Homo sapiens: one gene and its partners. The protein of the gene in region 1 interacts with the protein of each later gene in a pairwise test. Each region holds a gene or a part of one and is shown on either strand. Other genes may lie near its edges.

Evidence for each region.
Region 2: the proteins of ECH1 (region 1) and AMACR come close enough for resonance energy transfer, tested with the Homo sapiens proteins (one large-scale study listed by BioGRID).
Region 3: the proteins of ECH1 (region 1) and TYSND1 come close enough for resonance energy transfer, tested with the Homo sapiens proteins (one large-scale study listed by BioGRID).
Region 4: the proteins of ECH1 (region 1) and PEX11G come close enough for resonance energy transfer, tested with the Homo sapiens proteins (one large-scale study listed by BioGRID).
Region 5: the proteins of ECH1 (region 1) and HAO2 come close enough for resonance energy transfer, tested with the Homo sapiens proteins (one large-scale study listed by BioGRID).
Region 6: the proteins of ECH1 (region 1) and SERPINB9 interact in a two-hybrid assay, tested with the Homo sapiens proteins (one large-scale study listed by BioGRID and IntAct).

Annotation. Positions count from the first base shown.
Region 1 is NC_000019.10:38,825,295-38,828,794, reverse strand, and holds part of ECH1 (delta(3,5)-Delta(2,4)-dienoyl-CoA isomerase, mitochondrial precursor), read left to right. Parts: intron 1-3,500. UniProt on the Homo sapiens protein: Isomerization of 3-trans,5-cis-dienoyl-CoA to 2-trans,4-trans-dienoyl-CoA.
Region 2 is NC_000005.10:34,005,251-34,009,421, reverse strand, and holds the start of AMACR (alpha-methylacyl-CoA racemase), read left to right. Parts: upstream 1-1,371; 5' UTR 1,372-1,402; coding exon 1,403-1,649; intron 1,650-3,522; coding exon 3,523-3,666; intron 3,667-4,171. UniProt on the Homo sapiens protein: Catalyzes the interconversion of (R)- and (S)-stereoisomers of alpha-methyl-branched-chain fatty acyl-CoA esters.
Region 3 is NC_000010.11:70,137,481-70,140,590, forward strand, and holds the end of TYSND1 (peroxisomal leader peptide-processing protease), read right to left. Parts: intron 2,662-3,110; coding exon 2,444-2,661; 3' UTR 501-2,443; downstream 1-500. UniProt on the Homo sapiens protein: Peroxisomal protease that mediates both the removal of the leader peptide from proteins containing a PTS2 target sequence and processes several PTS1-containing proteins.
Region 4 is NC_000019.10:7,486,236-7,490,186, forward strand, and holds the start of PEX11G (peroxisomal membrane protein 11C), read right to left. Parts: upstream 2,801-3,951; 5' UTR 2,776-2,800; coding exon 2,716-2,775; intron 1-2,715. UniProt on the Homo sapiens protein: Promotes membrane protrusion and elongation on the peroxisomal surface.
Region 5 is NC_000001.11:119,375,285-119,378,784, forward strand, and holds part of HAO2 (2-Hydroxyacid oxidase 2), read left to right. Parts: intron 1-3,500. UniProt on the Homo sapiens protein: Oxidase that catalyzes the oxidation of medium and long chain hydroxyacids such as 2-hydroxyhexadecanoate and 2-hydroxyoctanoate, to the correspondong 2-oxoacids.
Region 6 is NC_000006.12:2,890,040-2,893,309, forward strand, and holds part of SERPINB9 (serpin B9), read right to left. Parts: intron 1,950-3,270; coding exon 1,794-1,949; intron 532-1,793; coding exon 124-531; 3' UTR 1-123. UniProt on the Homo sapiens protein: Granzyme B inhibitor.

The DNA of each region.
Region 1 (3,500 bases):
AAAAAAAGAATATTAGCCAGGCATGGTGGCGGGCACCTTTAGTCCCAGCTACTCGGGAGGCTGAGGCAGGAGAATGGCGTGAACCTGGGAGGCAGAGGTTGCAGTGAGCCGAGATGGCGCCACTGCACTCCAGCCTGGGTGACATAGCGAGACTCCCTCTAAAAACAAAATAAAAACAAAACAAAAACTCCTTATCTTCTAATCTCAACATCTGGGTCATCTTGGGGTCAGTCTCCTTATCATCTTTTCGCTTGGAAATGGCAGGCTGGGCTCAGTGGCTCATGCCTGTAATCCCAGCACTTTGGGAAGCTGAGGTGGGTGGATCACTTGAGGTCAGGAGTTCAAGACTAGCCTGGCCAACATGGTGAAACCCCGTCTGTACTAAAAATACAAAAATTTTCCCGGCGTGGTGGTGCATGCCTGTAATCCCAGCTGCTGGAGAGCCTGAGGCAGGAGAATCGCTTGAACCCAGGAGGCAGAGGTTGCAGTGAGCCTACATCACGCCATTGCACTCCAGCCTTGGTGACAAGAGCGAGACTCTGTCTCAAAAAAAAGAAAACGGCTTCACTTTCCTGTTTCTTTGTATTTTGAGTTAGTTTGGATTGTTTCTTGGATATTGGGATATAGGAATAAGATGTGGATACTCTGGATTCTATCATATAGTTCCAAAGAGTGTTGAGTTTCGTGTTTTGGTAGCTTAGTTGGAATTAGTTTTTTTGGTTTTTCTGTTTTTATTTTTATTTTTTTGTAGAGATGAGGTCTTGCTATGTTGCCCAGTCTGGTCTTCAACTCTTGAACTCAAGCGATCCTCCTGACTCGGCCTCCCAATGTGCTGGGACTACAAGCGTGAACCACTGTGCCTGGCTTCTTGCTGATTTACAGACCATACATGCACCCCCAGCAAAAGATTTAAAAACTAATCTTCAGCCAGGGCAACACACTGAGACCTTGTCTCTAACAAAAATTAGCTGGGTGTGATGAATGACCACACTCCCAGCTACTCTGGAGGCTGAGGTGGGAGGATGGCTCGAACCAGGGAGGTCAAAACTGCAGTGAGCTGTGGTCGTGCCACTGCACCCAGCCTGGGTGACAGTGCAAGAACCCATCTCAAAACAAAAACAACAACAAAAACATACATCTCCCAGCAAGAGATTAGGGCAGAGTTGATACACAGAATTCGGGACTCCTCGCTCTGGCTCTCCCCTCTTTGGAATATCCCCCCTCACTTCCCGGCAGCTTTGGTCACCTTGGACTCTATCCTGTGGCTCTTCAAGCACAATTTCAGTCTGCCCTCAGGCTGAAAGTTTTCAAAACCATTTTCAAAAACACCGAGAGAGTGTTCTGCCACTCTCCTAAGTGGTCACTCCCTCCAGAATCTGCCCAGTGCCTTCAGATAATTGTTTGTTTCTTGTCCAGCCAGCGTATGTAGTTGTCCGTGGGAGGGTTGGCCCTTTAGGACTGAACCAGAAGCAAAATATTTCATACACTGATTTCTGCACAGGGCCCAGAGCCTGGTGCTGGGAACCCAGTCTTGACTAGGACAGTCCCAGGCCCTGTTGTCATGGCGTTCCCAACTCAGTGGGGAAGACAGACAGTAAACTATTTCTTTCTGTTTTGTCCATTAACATATTCCCAGGTCCCTTTCTTTCTTTCCCTCCCCTTTCTCCCTCCCCTCCCTCCCTCTCCTCCCTTCCTCCTTCCCCTCCCTCCCTCTCCTCCCTTCCTCCTTCCCCTCCTTCCCCTCCTTCTCCCTCTCCTCCCTGTCCTCCCTCTCCATCCTTGCTGAGGGCCCTGGTCCCTCTGGCTAAGATTAGGCCTAGATATTTGACCTGCTGTAGGCAAAGCTGGGCCTTTGACCTAGACACCTTGTACCCTTGATTAGCGAGAAAGTTCAAGAGATCTAGAGTAGCCTGCTGGCTCGAGGCTTCTGAACTGGGAGCCAAAAGTAAATCATCCATATATTGAAGGACCAGAGTGCCTGGACTTGAGAAGTGGCCTAGATCTTGGGCCAGTGCCTGACCAAACAGATGAGGCCTATCCCTAAACCCTTGGGGCAAGACCGTCCACATAATTTGGGACGTGTGGTCTGTGGGATCCTCAAAGGCAAAGAGAAACTGGGAGTCAGAGTGTAGGGGAATACAGAAGAAGGCATCCTTGAGGTCTAGAACTGTGAACCATTCTGCTGCCTCTGTTATTTGAGAGAGCAGGGTATAGGTGTTGGTTACAGCTGGATATAGAGAAATTACTGCCTCATTGATGAGTCTAAGATCTTGCACTAGTCTCCACTGACCATTTAGTTTTTGTACTCCTAGAATTGGGGTGTTGTAGGGACTGCTGCATTTCCTTACTAAGCCTGGAGCTTTTAAATGTTTAACAATATTCTGTAATCGTTTATGAGCTTCAGGCTTTAAGGGATATTGCCTTTGATAAGGAAAAGCAGTGGGATCTTTTAACCTGATTTGTAATGGGCGGGCATTTTTTGCCCTTCCAAATTGTCCTTCCAATGCCCAGACTTCAGGGTTGATTCCCTCCACAAGTAGGGGGACAACAAATGGGTAACTTGTTCCCCATATTGATGTAGATAATAGCTCCAGCCTTGGCTAATATGTCCCTGCCTAATAAGGGTGTGGAACTTTCAGGCATAATAAGAAAGGCATGTGAAAAGAGCAAAGTCTCCCAATTACAACTGAGAGGTGGGAGAAATACCTGGTTACAGGCTGTCCCAGGATTCATCGGATGGTAACAGACCTTGAGGACAGTCGTCCAGGACAGGAGATTAACACTGAGAAGGCCGCGCCAGTGTCCAGGAGGAAGTCAGTTTCCTGGCCCTCAATGGTTAAACGTACCCGGGGCTCAGTGAGGGTGATGACATGAGCTGGCGCTTGCCCCGGGCACCCTCTGTCCTGTTGTTGGATCATCTGGTTGGGGGCTTCTGACCTAGGGAACCTTCGTCCGCTGGGGCAGTGCACCTTCCAGTGATTGCCTCGGCATAGTGGACATGGACGAGGGGGCAGCTTGTTTCTCATTGGACAATCTTTTTTAAAGTGTCCTAGTAAACCGCATGATAACAAGCCCTACCGGGTGATTGGCCTCTACTATCTGTCCTCTCTGAACCACTAAGGTTTGTTAGTCTGAGGGCCATAACTAAGGCTGCGGCCTTTCTCCAATCTCACTTTTCCTTTTGGGCCTGTTCCTCTTGGTCCCTATTATAGAACACTGAGGTTGCCAGGTTTTGATAATGCCTCCAAATTTTGTTCAGGGCCCAGGGCTTGCTTTTGGAGCTTTCTCCTGATATCTGCGGCTGATTGGATAATAAACTTATCTTTTAGAATCAATTGACCCTTGAGTGATTCGGGTGACCGGGGAGTATATTTTCTTAAGGCCTCCTATAGCTGCTCGAGGAAGGCAGAAGGATTTTCTTCCTTTCCCTGAGTTATGGTGGACATCATTGAATAATTCATGGGCTTTTTCTAATTCTCCTTAGTCCTTCTAGAACACAG
Region 2 (4,171 bases), on another chromosome or scaffold:
TTTTAATCCATTCTGAGTTGATTTTTGTGTATGGTGAGGGATAGGGGTCTAGTTTCATTCTTCTGCATATGGATTTCCAGTTTTTCCAGCACTACTTATTGAATAGAATGTCCTTAATATATGTTCTTGGTGTTTTTATTGATAATCAGCTGGCTGTAAATATATGGATTTATTTTGGGGTTCTTTATTCTGTTCCATTGGTCTTTGTGTCTATTTTATGCCAATAGAATGCTGTTTTGGTTACTACACCTTGGTAGTATAATTTGAATTCTGGTAGTGTGTTGCTTCCTGCTTTGTTCTTTTTGTTCAGTGTTGCTTTGGCTATTCAGGACCTTTTGTGGTTTTATACAATTTTTTTTTCTATTTCTATGAAGAGAAAGCCACAGAGTCCTAAAATAATTCTAAAACTCATCATGACTTTCTTGCCTAAAAGATCTTGATTTCAATCGTGCCTAGTTTTGCTTTAATCACTTGCTTGAGAAATACATAAATCCCCACTTAAGATTAGTGCAGGCATATCTCTGGCACCCATTTCTGGTTCTATTAAAATTCCTAGAGATGTCAAAAATTACATTAGGCCACCTGACAGGCTATACCTAGAAGAGAAAAAATGATTTGTAAAAGCAGTGGGGCTATTTGCGATTGCTTTTTTTTTTTCTTAAATATCACCTATTAGGTTGAAAACCTGAAATTGCAGCTTTCTGTAGAAATGGCGGAAGACAAACTAACATTTTTAAAGCGCTCTCATTTAGCTCTGATGAGTACTACACCCCTGATATTCTTCTGATACTAAAATAATTTTCCTAGTGTAGTCTAAACTTTTTTAAAAAGACATGTAATCCGCGGAGTTTGTAACTCAAAACGAGTGCATCTAGGAGGTATCGCAAGCCGTTTCTGGATTAAATTCCCAGCTAGCTAGCTAGCTAAGCAGGGGCGGTGAAGAAGACAATCTGCAGCCTAGGGAAGAAAACGCTTTCGCATTGTTCTTACGTGTTTACGTTATTTTATTTCCCTAGAGCAAGGCAGGAGTAGGGACTCGAATGGTACAGTTGGGCTGGGGATCGCCCTGGTACAATAAAAGCGTCCAGAGAGGACGGTAACAGGCAGGAGCTCCAAAGGTCAGTCCCTGCAATTTAAGACTCAGGAATTTAGGTTGCACAAAAAGGAAAGCAACCTACTGCATTTGGCACTGGCGGTCCCGGGAGGCCGGGGGTGGGGAAGCGCCCAGTGCGCAGACTCCGCGGGCTTGCGCAGGCCCGCAAAAGAGGGACGGGGGTGGTGCCTTTGGGGCGCGGCGCCGCGGCTGGGGGCGTGGCGCCGGGGATTGGGAGGGCTTCTTGCAGGCTGCTGGGCTGGGGCTAAGGGCTGCTCAGTTTCCTTCAGCGGGGCACTGGGAAGCGCCATGGCACTGCAGGGCATCTCGGTCGTGGAGCTGTCCGGCCTGGCCCCGGGCCCGTTCTGTGCTATGGTCCTGGCTGACTTCGGGGCGCGTGTGGTACGCGTGGACCGGCCCGGCTCCCGCTACGACGTGAGCCGCTTGGGCCGGGGCAAGCGCTCGCTAGTGCTGGACCTGAAGCAGCCGCGGGGAGCCGCCGTGCTGCGGCGTCTGTGCAAGCGGTCGGATGTGCTGCTGGAGCCCTTCCGCCGCGGTGAGCCCGGGCCCCGCGGGCTGCTCTCGGGAAGTTCCCGCGGAGGGGAGGGGCCTGGCCGTTCGATCGAGGCTGCACCCGCCACACCTTTGCCCTGTTGCCGCAAGAACCCTTGTCGGCCCCAGCCTTCCAGATTTTTGCCTCCTAGGGTATTGTTAGTGATCATTCTTCCCAAACTGGATTGTCCAAAACTTGGGTTCTGAGATACTGCTGTTGCCCGGTTTCTCCTTTTGCCTCTCTGACTCCTTCCCAAATTCCTCCTTTTTTTTCTAAGAAACGTTCCGTATTTGCCTTTCTTAATTAATTGAGGGTCTTGAACCCTGTGAGAATCTAATGAAAGCCATAGGATTCCCTTCCTGGAAAACTGCATATAGGCGGTCATTCGGCTACCGTTTTGGAGTGCTGTACCCTCAAGCCATCCACGGGCCCAGGCTAACGCTCCTCCCTGCCTGAAATGCTGGCGTTCTAAGTCTCAGCATCTGCTCCCTGAAGCCCAGTTACCCATTCCCATCATTTTCACCTTTTTGTAGACTTCCCCCTTTCAGAGCGGCAGACGCTGGCATACACAGGTCCTGGGCATCGCCGTCAAGGCTGCCCGCCAGGCAGCTTCCACAAATCCCAAAATGAGCCTTTCCTTCTTCCTTCTAAAACAGCATCTCCACCTTCTGTATTATTTATTTCAGTGAATGCCTGAATCTCAAACTTGTACTTCATCATGGACTCCAGTCTTCCTTTCACATCCAATTTCAATGATCATCAATACAGTCATTTTGCTCCTTAGCCCACTCGGACTATTTCTCTCCATACCTGCTGCAACTGCCTTGACACTGGTGTGACAGCCTTTTAAAAACTGGTGTTTGGGGCTGGTATCACTCCAGTGGATTCTCAGACAGCTGCCAGAATAACTTTGTTCAAGTAGAAATCCAAAGCATTGCCTGGTCTATAGTGGGAAATCGGTAAATGGTGAATGAATGAATGCCTACGGCACAGCCGGCTTATTTAAATGCGTTAACTCATTTAACCCTCACAGCTGTATTTGAGGCTTGTAACAATAATGATTTAATAATTAAGATTATGTAATAATTTAAGAATGCTCCATTTAAGATGAGGGAGGCTTGTCCAAGGTCTTGTAATTAGGAGGAAGGTCGGCTGGGAATACGGATATAGCCTCCGGGTGAGGAGTTGTGACTGGTGTTTAGGTAGATGACTAGAGGTTTTCTGTGATTTATTTTAGCCTTAGGAAGGTAAAGATAGTGAGTTTATTATGTAATTTTGATTACTTTTAATCCCAGGAAATTTCAGGTGCTGGTTACCTGGGGTTTGTGCTATAAATACTATACTTGTTGATAGCTTAAAAACTCTCAGGTGCTATTGTCACTAACCACTCTTTCTACAGATGGGTGCTAAACTTTTTCGTGAAGGTACTGATGCTAGGCACTTTAGCGCCTGTGGAAACATCAGGTGTAAATTCTGCAGGAGGAGCTCATGAGCTGATAGGGAAGATAAGTGTATGCATGTACAAGCAAGTGCAGCTAAGGTGGGATGTGGTAAACACTGATGCGGTATAGAAAAAGAGAAAAGGGATTTACTAAAGGGATGAGACCCTGCTCTGGGGATTGAATAAATAGGCTTGGATAAACCTAGAGGGAAACAGAGATGTACTGGGAGAAATTACATCCTGGGAAGAAGCCACACATTCCAGAAATGGTGGCTTCACTCTTTGAGTCCTTAACTGCTGTAAACATGCCATTAGCCTACAGCAAATGTTATTAATATTACTTGCAATGGTGCTATTTTATGTTTGTCTCAGAGAAGGGATTATCTCCATCCTCAATTCATACTCTCTTAAGAAGATCGTTACTTTTCTCTTAAGGTGTCATGGAGAAACTCCAGCTGGGCCCAGAGATTCTGCAGCGGGAAAATCCAAGGCTTATTTATGCCAGGCTGAGTGGATTTGGCCAGTCAGGAAGCTTCTGCCGGTTAGCTGGCCACGATATCAACTATTTGGCTTTGTCAGGTATGTTGAAAAAAAATTTAGTCTACACTTTTAATTTATTCCATCAAGATCTACAGGTATGTTGATTAACAATAATTTGTAAAGGTAAAAATTTAAACATTTATCAGAATCAATCAAGAGAGCATGGGTGTTCAAAATGGATCGGTTTGAGTCTTGAAACAATCATTCTCAACCTTCCCTCACCCCATCCCTTAACAGGTTGGAAGGTTAATACATGCCCACTACTATCATTTATTTACTACATTTGTTGAGTCAATTCTCAGACAAACCCCTGCTAGGAATTAAGAGGCTTACTGGGTACTACGGATGGTTGCTCTGTGGTTTGAAAATGTTGACATAGTTAGATTCTGACAGCTACTTCTCCCCCGGACCCCGAAATCTCCACCCACCATATTGAGAATCATTGCCTGAGTCATTGTTTCAGACTTCTATGAGCACTAAAAAAAGCCCATGGTTTTCAGGTCCTAATATCACTTTATTAGAGTTTTTGCCTGTGACGACATGT
Region 3 (3,110 bases), on another chromosome or scaffold:
CTCTCACAGCAAAGTCAGACCTCAGATCTAGGATTCTGCTACCATTAACTTACTGTAGAACTTCTCTTAAACTAGCCATGACCTCTGGACCCATTCCTAATCTGTAAAGGGAGGAACAACCATCCCAGGAGTGTTCTGTGATTGCCCCGTGTTTTAGGAAAAACTCTCCTCAAATCGTGTTTTCCCTCTACTCTCATGCCATCACAATCATCAACACAGAAGACTTCAGTGACCAAATGTGTGTGGGGTTTCCCCACCAAAAGCAGTGGACATCAGCCGGGTGTCCTCTAATTCAGTTCCAACACTATCTACCCAGAGACATTGTCAGACCCCACAGGTTGAGGGTTCAGTCTCCAAGACTGCCCCCCTCAACCACACCAGGCACAAGTCTAGGCCTCCAGAACTTCTGACCAACTGGCTTCAAGTTGAGTTCCCACGACCTCCTTTTTGGGTTCAATTAATTTGCTAGAGTGGATCACAGAGCTCAGAGACACACTTACTTATGTTTACCGGTTTATTATAAAGGATATCGCAAAGGATACAGATGAAGAGATGCACATAGAGCAAGGAATGAGGGAAGGGGAAGGAGTGCAGAGCTTCCGTGCCCTCCCTGGGCACGCCACACTCCAGGAAGTGCCAGGTGTTCAGCTATCCAGAAGCTCTCTGAACCCTGTCCTCTTGGGTTTTTATGGAAGGTTCATGACATCAACATTCCTTCCCCTAGGATTGAGACCCTCTCATGGGAAGGTCTTTAGGACCCACTGTGAAAAAGGTGGGCGAACATTAGTGAAAGGATACCCAGAGGTCAGAGGCCTGTCCCAAGCCCTAACATACCCAGTATTCTAACAAAGACTGGAACAAGGACTATGAGAGTTACGAGTCAGGAATGCTGGATGAAAACCAATATATATCATAACACCACACCCAGCATTGGCACTCAGCACACAGGTGTTAGAAACAAGTTACTCCTAAGCACTCTTCCTGCGTGGCCTCCGCCCACAGCCGCCCCTCACAGGGCTTTCAGCCTGCCAGTAGAAATCACTCGAGGGCCCACACATGCAAGGCCCTGGGCACACGGCACAGTCCTGACTCAAAGAGTTGGCCTCAGCTCCTGGGGGCTGCCCTGGCCTCATTCACCCTTGAACTCCCCAACTGCCACCCACCTTAGGCATTCTTTAAGCATCTGCTGCCAGGTCAAGACCACCACCTTCCGGGACCTGCAAGCCCCACCCAGCTCTGACTGGCACATGACCAGCTATGAGGGCCAGTCTGGCAGGACCGTATCCCGTGAGCTCACACCCTGCTGAGAAAACAGCACAGAAAGGGTGTATTTCTGGGTTGGGCACAGTGGCTCACACCTGTAATCCCAGCACTTTGGGAAGCTGAGGCAGGAGGACTGCTTGAAACCAGAAGGCTGAAGCCAGCACGGGCAACAAAGCAATACCCCATTTCTACAAAAATAAAAAATTAGCCAGGCGTGGTGGTGCGCGACTGTAGTCCCAGCTATTCAGGAGGCTGAGGCAGGAGGTCTCCTGGAGCCCAGGAGTTTGAGGCTGCAGTGAGCTGTGATCGCAACACTGCACTCCAGCCTGGGTGAGAGAGCAAGACCACAGCTCTAAAGAAAAAAAAAAAAAAAAAAGGAAAGGGTGTGTTTCTTTGCCTGGTACTTGCCTATTCCCAGTTCAACTCCTGAAAAAAAGAAACAATTTGATATATAAATACAGAGGTTTTTCAATAGATCATGTTTATTCCCAAGCCCCAACCAGACATGTTCTACCCCTCAAGATCCCTGAGACCCAGGCTGTGGGCTGGAAAATGAAGGCACAGTGTCAAGAGCGCCCCTGTTGGCATATGAAGACCCAGGAGTGCTGACCTTCAGGGATCTGCCTGCACTGCCCATGGGCCTGGCACAGCAGGAGGCACTCCTGTTTCTGTCCCTTCTGTCTCTGGTCTTCAGAGCAAGGTTTCTGCTGAGATGCTAAGGAAGCTGAGTCCTTTGTCAGCCCTGACTCTGACTGAGAGGCAGACAGGAGCCAAGGCCCCATTGAAGCTCCAGGATGACGATGGCCCTCAGGGGAACAGACGCAAAACCAGGCACGGGCCTGCCTTCCAGCTGGAATCTACCTGTCAGGCCCAGAACTTCTGTGCAGTTGGAGTGGGCTCCCCAGAAGGAAAAACAATACAGCTGAGTCTAGTGCTAGGGGACAGAGAACTGGGGGCTCAAGAAAGCACCCCAAAACGGGCTGCCAGGTTAAGGATCCATGGGGCTGAAGAGAAGTTTGCCCCAGAGCCCAAAGCCCAGTCTGCAGTCAGTGGGTGGAGATGAGAGGCAGCCTGGGCCCCTGCAGGGGCTGGGCCCTGAATCCTGAGGCCACCGTCACCTCAACATCACTTCCTACAGCAGAAAAAGGTCACTCTTCTTTCCAAAGGTGGTAACACAGCCTCAGAGCTTGCTCCGCGGGGCCTCTGCCAGGGGCCGCTGCAACCGCCACACCACCCTGACTGGCTCAGCAGCGCGGTCCAGCTCACGGAGGCCACCTAGGTCTTGGGTCTGGCTGTACTGCTGCAGGGCCGGCTGGAGCACCGTGATGGGAATGCTGAAGTTCAGGTGGGGGTAGGTGGCCCCCGTATTATTGTCCCGGGTGTTGCTGGTGATTATGCCTGTTGAGGAGTCAGAGAGCAAAAGAGGATGTGAGCCAGGGGGCAGAAAGGCTGGAGAAGGGAGGAGGACCATCTCCACCCTGGAGCCCCCAGGGCCTGGTAGGGCTGGATACCACCCCACGTGGTGACAGACGCTGAGCTTCTAGACATGAACACCTGCTGCCCACACCCTTTCCTGGCTTTACGTTTTCTCCTTAACACTCTCAAAATCTAACACACTAGATAGTTCACTTATTTCACTTGTTATCTTTCTCTCGACCTAGTGTCAGCTCCATAAGGGCAGGACTTTGAGGTTTTGTTCATGCAGTCTCCCCAGTACCTGAAACAGTGCCTTGTGCCAAGTAGGCGCGCAACAAAGGCTTGTTGAATGAATGAATGAATGAATGAATGAATGAATGAATGAATGAATGAATCAGACCCACAGACATATTTTGTTTGGCCTGCTCGGT
Region 4 (3,951 bases), about 31 Mb from region 1:
TGTGCCTCAGCCTCCCCAGTAGCTGGGATTACAGGCGCCCACCACCACACCCTGCTAATTTTTATATTTTTTGTAGAGACAGGGTTTCACCAGGTTGGCTAGGCTGGTCTCAAACTCATAACCTCAGTGATCCACCTGCCTTAGCCTCCCAAAGTGCTGGGATTACAGGCATGAGCCACCGTGCCTGACCCAAGAGTTTGGAAGATTCTAAATCTACAAAGTGACAGTAAAAGCTGAAAGTTTAGGTGGGGCACAGTGGCTCACACCTGTAACCCCAGCACTTTGAGAAACCGAGGTGAGAGGATGCCTTCACACCAGGAGTTTGAGACCAGCCTGGGCAACATAGCAAGACCCTGTGTCTACCAAAAAAATTTTTTTTTTTGAGACGGAGTCTTGCTCCGTCACCTAGGCTGGAGTGCGGTGGCGCGATCTCGGCTCACTGCAAGCTCCACCTCCCGGGTTCATGCGATTCTCCTGCCTCAGCCTCCCGAGTAGCTGGGACTACAGGCACCCGCCACCAAGCCCACCTAATTTTTTGTATTTTTAGTAGAGATGGGGTTTCACCATTTTAGCCAGGATGGTCTTGATCTCCTGACCTCATGATCCACCCGCCTCGGCCTCCCAAAGTGCTGGGATTACAGGCGTAAGCCACCGCGCCTGGCTACCAAAAATTTTTTTAAGTTAACAGGGCATGGTGGTTACTTGGGAGGCTGATGCTGGAGGATCACTTGAGCCCAGGAGTTCCAGACTGTAGTGAGCTGTAATCGTGCTACTACACTCCAGCCTGGGCAACAGGGCGAGACCCTGTCTAAAAAAAGAAAAAGAAAAAGAAAAAAAAAGCTGGAAGTTTAAAAACATACTTGGAGGTGGGACAAATGAAGAAACATGACATCATTGATGTAACTGAAGGGCACAGCCTTTGGGAACAGATGTGACAGGAACAAAGAAAACAAAGCTCCTTACTTCCCACCTCCTAGGTCCTTCTTTTCCCAGGTGGCAGGAAGCCACAGCTAAAGTGTATATTTACATCTACCTGCCTGGACCAAAGCCTTTGGATGTGCTGAATGGTGGGCACAGGTGATCAGGCCTCAACCCAGTGAACAACAGGATAATTTGGTAGAATTACTTTAGAGAGAAAGAACCTACTCAGTAGGTGATGTGGAGCCTTCTGAAATAGGTCATCTTCACTACTCAGATCTTTTTTCTTTTGGAGACAGAGTCTTGCTCTGCTCCCCAGGCTCGAGTGCAAAGGTGTGAGCTCACTGCAACCTCTGCATCCCAGGTTCAAGCAATTCTCCCGCCTCAGCCTTCCAAGTAGCTGGGACTACAGGCACGCACCACCACATCCGGCTAATTTTTGTATTTTAGTAGAGACGAGGTTTCATCACTTTTCCCAGGCTGGTCTCAAACTCCTGAGCTCAGACAATCCACCCAGCTCAGCCTCCCAAAGTGCTAGGATCACAGGCGCGAGCCACCACGCCTGGCCTCCCTTATATCTTTATTTTACCTGCTTTTCAGAAATTGCTTGTTCCTGTTGTTTTATTTATTTTTACTTGTAATTCCTTTCCAGCCCCATTATAATGGCAAAACACTGCAATCTGAATGTTCAACTCGGGGGAGATTTGTTAACCCACCCCCCCAATCATAAGATATTTGAATGGAATCTAAATGCCTAGCCACCAGTACACCGCCTGGTACAACCTGAATGTCTACCTATAAGAGACTGGTGGGGACAAGCTAAGAGTCCAGACTCAGGGGCATGGATGGCATAACCTAAATGTTCAACCATATGGGACTTGATTGGAACTAAAAACTGTCCAGCCATAGGGAGAGTCTTGCAATATCCTAAATCCCCACATGAGATTGTTTGGGACAACCCAGGGACCAACTACAGTGGCCCGGTCAGATCCTAAATGTCCAAACATGGGAATCTGTTTGGTATGTAAACGTCCAGCCAGGCTGGGTTGGCAGAGACGATCTAAATGACCAACTGGGGTTTTGTTGGAACCCATCGCTGCTTAGGCATGGCAGGGCCCAGGCCATGGCGTGTTCTTTGGTCTAGGTTGGCTGAAACAACCTAAATGCCCAACTATAGGGAATCTGGTTGGAAGTGAATGTCCAGCCACAGGGGAGCCCTGCAACATCCCAAATCCCAACACGAGATTGTTCAGGACAACTTCAGTGGCCTGGTCGGATCCAAAACGTCCAAACACGGGAATCTGGCCAGTGTGTCAATGTCCAGACAGGTTGGGTTGGCAGAAACTATCTAAATGTCCAACGCTGGCCAGACGCGGTGGCTCACGCCTGTAATCCCAGCACTTTGGGAGGCCGAGGCAGGTGGATCGCTTGAGGCCAGGAGATCGAGACCATCCTGGCTAACACGATGAAACTCCGTCTCTACTAAAAATACAAAAAAATAGCAGGGAGTGGTGGCGGGCGCCTGTAGTCCCAGCTACTCGGGAGTGCTGAGGCAGGAGAATCGCTTGAACCCGGGAAGCGGAGGCTGCAGTGAGCAGAGATCGCACCACTGCACTCCAGCCAAAATAAATAAATACATAAATGTCCAATGCTAGGGCACCGCATTTGAGCCTAGCTCGGACGGGGCCTCTGCGACGGAGTATCCTGGGCGACCCCGTCCCCTCTCTGGCCCGTTTCCCAGTCTCTGAGCTTGGGCCAAACTCTAGGACCTCCGGCCCCGGTCCGCCCCTGCCTCACCAGGCGGTCCCGGCCCCTGTACGACTCCAGCGCCGACGCCAGGCCGCTCAGCGACGCCATGGCAACTCCGTGACGTCACCGCGACGTCGGCGCGCCGCGCCAGGGGGCGGGGCCAGGCCGGGGTACCGGGAGCGCCCCAAAGGCTTGCGCGCAGGCGCGGCCGCAGGCCTTTGTCCCCCTGACCGGCTTTTTGTCCGCTGTAGGGGAGGGACAGAGTTTGCAGAGGTGGGGCCGACACGTGTGTGCTCTCCAGGCCTGCAGACCCTGGATCATCCTCGGAGTTTGCTGCATTCTGCCCCACGGCGGTTTGGCCAACTACCCACGCACAAAAAAATATATTTCTAAGTTTAACCAACTACCCACACGCTCCAAAAATATTCCAAGCAAAACCACCAACCTGTTCGCAGTGGTTCAAGGAGAGATTTTCCTTTTTAGTTTTTGTGCTTCACCTTTTCTGCACTGTCTGCCTGCCCGTAGTGAGCAGGAATGACTGCTGTAATATCACAACAAGGCATCTTTCGACGTTAAGGAAAGACGTTATCTTTGGACGTTAAGAATTGTTCTAGAATACATAAATAAAAAATAAAAATGCACAATTCAGTGACATTAGTACATGCACATGTTGGACAACCATCACCCCTTGCTAGTTTCGGGGTATTTTTATCACCCCCAAGAGAGACCCCCGTAGGAGACCAGCATATGCCCCTCTGAAATATGCGACCTTGGTGTAGGATTATTTTGAGCTGAGATCAATGAAGCTGATACCGGAAAAGCTCTCTGTTCTTCCCTGATTTGCCTCAAAGCAGGACCTAAAGGTACAAAGGTGCCCTCCTCCCCTCTCTACCAGGAAGGACAAAGGTTGATCACCAGGGACACCTTTAGACTCTTGTCTGGAGACGTCTTTTTTTTTTTTTTCTTTTTTTTTGAGACGGAGTCTTGCTCTGTCCCCAAAGCTAGAGTGCAGTAGCGCCATCTCTGCTCACTGCGTCCTCCGCTTCCCTGGTTCAAGCGATTCTCGTGCCTCAGCTTCCCAAGTAGCTGGGATCACAGCTGTGCACCACTGTGCCCGGCTAATTTTTGTATTTTTGGTAGAGTCGGGGTTTCACCACGTTGGCCAGGCTGTTCTCAAATTCCTGGCCTCAAGTGATCCGCCCGCCTCGGCCTCCCAAAGTGCTGGGATTACAAGCGTGAGCCACCGCACCCGGCCTCAATGTCCTTTTCCTTCGTCTTGTCACT
Region 5 (3,500 bases), on another chromosome or scaffold:
AAGTATATACAAATATATTGTGCTAAGTTCTTCACTTCCAAATTTAGGAAAAGCTTTGAACAAGGAAGGTATCCTTTTCTTTAATTATAAACCTTATATTAAACCTCTAACCAAAATAATAGACTACTAAGATTTACATATATTATATTAAAAATATATAATTGTATTTTTCAACCTACAAAATTATCTCGAGTTCAATATGGCAAGTCATTTATGAGAACCAACTATTGTGTTCTTTACCTGAAATTGAAAATGAGAATGTCTATCTTTAGAAGCTACCAGGACACATGAGTTCAGAACCATCTCTCATAATAACTTACTACCTGATTGTATTAGTCCATTTTCATAGTGCTATGAAGAAATACCTGAGACTGGGTAACTTATAAAGAAAAAAAGGTTTAATGGACTCCCAGTTCCACATAGCTGAAGGGGCCTCACAATTATGGCAGAAGGCAAAGGAGGAGCAAAGGCAAGTCTTACATGGTGGCAGGCAAGAGAGTGTGTGCAGGGGAACTGCCCTTTATAAGACCATCGGATCTCATGAGACTTTTTCACTATCATGAGAACAGCATGGTGAAACCCGCTCCCCCATGATTCAATTACCTCCCACCAGGACCCTCCTATGACATGTGGGGATTATGGGAGCTAAAATTCAAGATGAGGTTTGGTTGGGGACACAGCCAAACCATATCACTCCACTCCTGGCCCCTCACAAATCTCATGTCCTCACATTTCAAAACCAATCATGCCTTCCCAACAGTTCCTCAAAGTCATAACTAATTTCAGCATTAACTCAAAAATTCACAGTCCAAAGTCTCATCTGAGACAAGGCAAGTCCCTTCTACCTATGAGCCTGTAAAATCAAAAGCAAGTTAGTTACTTCCTAGATACAATGGGGATACAGGCATTGGGTAAATACCGCCATTCCAAATGGGAGAAATTAGACAAATCAAAGGTGCTACGGCCCCATGCAAGTCTAAAATCCAGCAGAGCAGTCAAATCTTAAAGCTCCAAAATGATCTTTTTGACTCCATATCTCACATCCAGGTCACACTGATGCAAGAGGTGGGTTCCCATGGTCTTGGGCAGCTCTGCCTCTGTGGCTTTTCAGGGTACAGCCTCTCTTCTGGCTGCTTCCACAGGCTAATGTTGAGTGTCTGTGGCTTTTCCACGTGCACAGTGCAAGCTGTCAGTGGATCTACCATTCTGGAGTCTGGAGGATGATGGCCCTCTTCTCACAGCTCCACTAGGCAGTGCCCCAGTGGGGACTCTGTGTGAAGGCTCCAACCCTACATTTTCCTGCTGCACTGTCCTAGCAGAGGTTCTCCATTAGGGCTCTGCCCCTTTAAGCAGATTTCTGCCTGGACATCCAAGTGTTTCTATACATCCTCTGAAATCTAGGCAGAACTTCCCAAATCTCAGTTCTTATCTTCTGCACATCCACATGCCCAACACCATGTGGAAGCTGCCAAGCTTTGAGGCTTGCACCCTCTGAAGCTACAATCTGAGCTGTACTTTGGCCCCTTTTAGCCATGGCTGGAACACAGGGCAACCAGTCCTGAGACTGCACAAAGCAGCAAGGCCCTGGTGCCCTGCATCTTAGGCCTACAGTCCTATGATGGGAGGGTCTGCAGAGAAGATGTCTGATATGCCCTGGAATCATTTTCCCCATTGTCTTGGCAATTAACATTTGGCTCCTCGTTACATATGCAAATTTCTGCAGCCAGCTTGAATTTCTCCTCAGAAAATTGGTTTTTCTTTTCTATCATCACATCATCAGGCTGCAAATTTTCCAGACTTTTATTATGCTCTGCTCCCCTTTTAAAAATAAGTTTCAATTTTAAACCATATATTTTTGAATACATAAAACTGAATGCTGTTAACAGCCCCCAAGTCACCTCTTGAATGCTTTGCTGCTTAGAAATTTCTTCTGCCAGATACTCTAAATCATCTTTCTCAAGTTCAAAGTTCCACAGATCTCTAAGGGAGGGGCAAAATACTGCCAGTCTCCTTACTAAAACATAGCAAGAGTCACCTTCATTCTAGTTGCCAACAAGTTCCTCATCTCCATCTGAGACCACCTCAGCCTGGACTTCATTGTCCATATTACTATCAAAATTTTAGTCAAAGCCATTCAAGATGTCTCTAGGAAGTTCCAAACTTTCCCACATCTTCCTGTCTTCTTCTAAGCCCTCCAAACTGTTCCAACCTCTGCCTATTATTCAGTTCCAAAGTCACTTCCACATTTTCGGGTATCTTTATAGCAGCGTCCCACTACCAGGTACCAATTTACTGTATTAGTCCATTTTCATACTGTAAAAGAAATACTTCAGACTAGATAATTTATAAAGAAAAACAGGCTTAATGGACTTCCAGTTCCACATGGTTGGGGAGGCCTCACAATCATGGTGAAAGGTGAAGGAGGAGCAAAGGCATGTTTTAAATGGCAGCAGGTAAGAGAGCACATGCAGGGAACTGCCCTTTATAAAACCATCAGCTCGGCCAGGCATGGTGGCTCATGGCTGTAATCCCAGCACTTTGGGAGGCCAAGGTGGGTGGATCACCTGAGGTCAGGAGTTTGAGACCAGCCTGGCCAACATGGTGAAACCCCGTTTCTACTAAAAATACAAAAATGAGCTGGGTGTGGTGGCACATGCCTGTAATTCCAGCTACTCAGGAGGCTGAGGCAGAAGAATTGCTTGAACTGGGGAGACAGAAGTTACAGTGAGCTGAGATCATGCTAAGCTTTACATACATTATAAAAAGAAAAAAATGCATAATTGTATTTTTAAACCTAGAAAATTCTCTTAAATATAGCAAGCAATTTATGAGAACCAACTATTTTGTTCTTTACGTTAAATTGAAAATAGAGAATGTCTATCTTTAGAAGCTACCAGAACACATGAGTCCAGAACCAACTGCACTCCAGCCTGGGCGACAGAGTGAGACTCCATCTCAAAATAAATAAATAAATAAACCCATCAGATCTCATGAGACTCATTCACTCTCACAAGAACAGCACTGGAAAATCCAGCCCCATGATTCAATTACCTCCCACCAGGCCCCTCCCATGACATGTGGGGATTATAGGAGCTATAATTCAAGAAGATATTTGGGTGGGGAAACAGCCAAACCATATCACTGATCTTTCACAAGTTATTTTATTTCTGAGGCCTCAGTCTCTTTAAATGCAAAGTAGGAAGACTAATACCTTCTCTGTCTTCTTCACAGGGACACTGAGAAAAAGCTGTAGATAGAAAAGAGTCTAAGGAAAAATTAGAAGAGGTATCGAAATGAGATAAAATAGTGTTTGTTATATATAAGATGCTAGGGTTGATTCTTTATGTCCAAGCAGCTTTCAAATCACATAACTGACACTATTCTAGACACATGACTCTGAGTGAGCATGAGCCATTTCTTCTGGATTAGACATAATGTTTGTGGCATTTATATGCTAGAATTGTGTAGAACAGCCTTTCTATGAGTGTGTAATGTATAGG
Region 6 (3,270 bases), on another chromosome or scaffold:
GACAGGTAAAGAATCTGCCCTCATCTTTGCACTTGGCTTTCTAGGCCCATCCTCTTGGAGCTGTAGTGGGGATCTGGGGACACAGGAAGAGGGAAATGGCCGAGTGCACGGTAAGTGCACCCTTTATGGCGATGAGAACCTGCCACAGAACAGAATGCTGTTGGCTCTGTTGTGCCTGATGAAGAAAAGGAAAGGGTGGTCAGCACAGAACCTGGGGCCAGATTCCATGCAGCACTCTGCAACTACAAAGCAGCTCGACGCTGCCGCTGCCTCGGTGCCTTCTTCATTCACCTCCACAAAACTCTTGTGCACGAACTTGGACAGACACAGGTCTCTCTCCGCTGACATTGCCGACAAGTCAGCCTTGCCCTGTTGGAAGGCATCAACAATTCCCAAATGCCGAAGCACAGATTCCATGTCATAATCCTCTTGTAGTTTAAATTTTGGAAGGAGAACTTCAACCTCAGTACTCTTCATACAGTCTGGCTTGGTCCAGGCTGTGAGTTTCTCAAAAGTGAGACTTTTTTCCACCTGAAAGACCAGAATTAGACTTTAAGATTCCGACTTCAGTGCACATGTACAAGCGCACAGGCACTCACAGTTCCCTTCCTCCCCTTGCACGTAGGTGTTGTTTGTTCACATAGGATCAGTGGCCCCTTCATCTGCCAGAAGCTTGTGAGCACTCTTACTTGTCCTATGTCCCATGTGCCACTTCCTTGACAAGGGGGAGAGACACCAAGCAGTCAGAGGCAGGAAGGCTGTGGCTGTCCTCTCCTTATCCAACAACTCCAGAGACATCTTGTATTGTGACAAGTGTCAATGCCCAGGCGACTGTGTTTTTTTTTCAAACATAGTCTTTTTAAAGACAACAAACCATTGCTAGTAAAGAAAAGGATTGGAAACGAAAGGGCTCTCAGTGTGAGCCACTCCAACAGGATTATCTGTCCCAGGTGAGATTCTGCATAGTTTCCGGAGCAGAGAGGTTACCAGAGGATTATCTGCCCCAGAGAGATTCTGCATAGTTTCCGGAGCATAGTTTCAGGAAGGTGGGCAGAGGGAGAGCCAATGGCTGCTGCGCACACAGACCTCTTAAGTCATGGGGTCCCACTGCCTGCCATTTGCCATGGTTGACTCTCTCACCCTGGAGATCCATGCTGAAAGGAAGCCGAGTGCCTGGATGTGCCCTCAGAGGCTGCCTCTGGTCCCACCCTCTGAGAACTGGACTTCACACCTCCCTGGATGCCCCCTCCCAGCCTTGTTAGGTCAAAGTTAAGACTTCCTCATTCTCTATTTCAGGTTCCTAGACTTTAAAAGCATAATGCTAAGAATGATGATTGTAATAATGGATCACATTTGTAGAGCATTTACTAGTTGCCAGGCAATGTGGTAAGCTTGTTACCTGAATTACCCACATTTTATCCTCATCATAACTCTAGGAGGCAATAACCCCGAGCAGTCATTTATGCTTTTAGAGTTAAAAGTCTGCCATTCATCAAACTAGCAGGATTTTTATAAGCTTCCTCCTACCTGATTTATTTTAAAAGGCATTTTAACCGCCGCCCACTCCTTCTAGCGATGAAAAAACAGAGGACTGAGATGTGTAGTTTGGCAGATCACGCAGACAATATTGGGAAAAGTCAGCCTTGAACAAAAGTTCGATCCCAACGCCAAGTGCCTGCACAGTGTGCGTCTGCCGCATCGCCAACTCAGAAGGTGAATATGAGAGGTGGAAGTGGCACTCGAGTTCTGCCCGCAAAGGTGTCCCTGGGTTCTTCCCGCAGCCCGGGTCTTACCGTGCTGAGCTCCACGCCGTCGTCAGGCAGCAGCACCAGCAGGCTCAGCTCCTTCCTGGCGTAGGGCAGCTCCAGCAGCTGCGCGCGCACCTCGCCCACGTGGGCGAGCTTAAACGTGGCCTCCTGATACATCATCTGCACTGGCCTTTGCTCCTCCTGGGGGAAGGATTATTGAAAGACGCAATTAAAACTTTCAAAAGAGCTGCAGTTGCCTCCAAGAGTGTTTTCAGCACCTGTGATGGAAACCGCCACATTCATGCCCCAGTTAACACTAAAAAAAAAAAAAAAAAAAAAAAAAAAAAAAGTCAACCAGTTCCTTCCTATCTTCATTGCAAGCAGACACAGTACCACCCTGGGAAAGGTTTTCTTCTGCAAAATAAAATGTGATACCCTACATTTTCCAGAGGAGAAAGATGTTTCTCATTTAAATTGTGCTCAGCAAATAGATCTAAGAAAGCAATATAATCAAATGAAATTAAATACAAATTTGTTTTGATTTAATTAGAAAAAAATGTGTATTGTTTTTCCTATTTATCCAACCCAACATATGAGAAAAAAAATCATAAAGTGGGATGAAACTTATAGTTCCACAACAGCATGACAGGGAGTATAAATGGATACACTCTCTCAGAAAGAGTAACGACCTACATATGTAGTAATGTATTTTAACCCAATCTTTTCAATTCTGATACTCTAATGAAATAACTTTTTTAAAATACAGAAGAGGCATAAGCACATAGAAGCTCAGCAAAGTATTACATTTATTAACGTAATACTTTAAAAAATTGATACAGATCATTTATTATAAAAATTAAAATAGTTCTAAAACCAGGGTTAGAATTCTCCTCCTCCCACCCTTTGCAACTAGAGAACTAATTTTTTTAAGTTAAAGTACACCTTACAAAAAATGCAGGAGGGTTACCTGCTTTTGTTTTTTAATTACATTAAAATAGTATCTTTTTAGGGGCTGGAAGATTTGGCAAATTATTCTAATGCCTGCCTTAATTAAGTTTTACTTCAATGTCAAAACTAAGGTCTTTGTCATGAAGTTTTAATATTAAAAAGCTGTAAATACTGAATTAATGATAATTAGTTAACAATTCAAATCAAAACTTACTTTAATTTTAAAAATAACTAATTAAAGACACATGTTTTCACCTTCTCTCCCTCTACCCTGCCCTATACTGCCTCTCACTCCCACATATCACACTACCTTAACACTTTTTTTTTTTTTTTTTTGCTTTCTAGCCAAGTAAATTGGGCTTATAGGAAGATCTTTAGTTTCCAAAACTAGGTGGCAGCAATGGTTTATGAGAAATTATCAAAGGCAGTTAAGAGCAGTGATAAAACACTACATATATATATATATATTATATATACGTATATATAATATATATATGCAGCAAATATCTTTTACTCCTTCCGTTTTTTTCTACTGAGTTAAGAAATTCATTCAGAAATACTTTAAGTTTCAAAT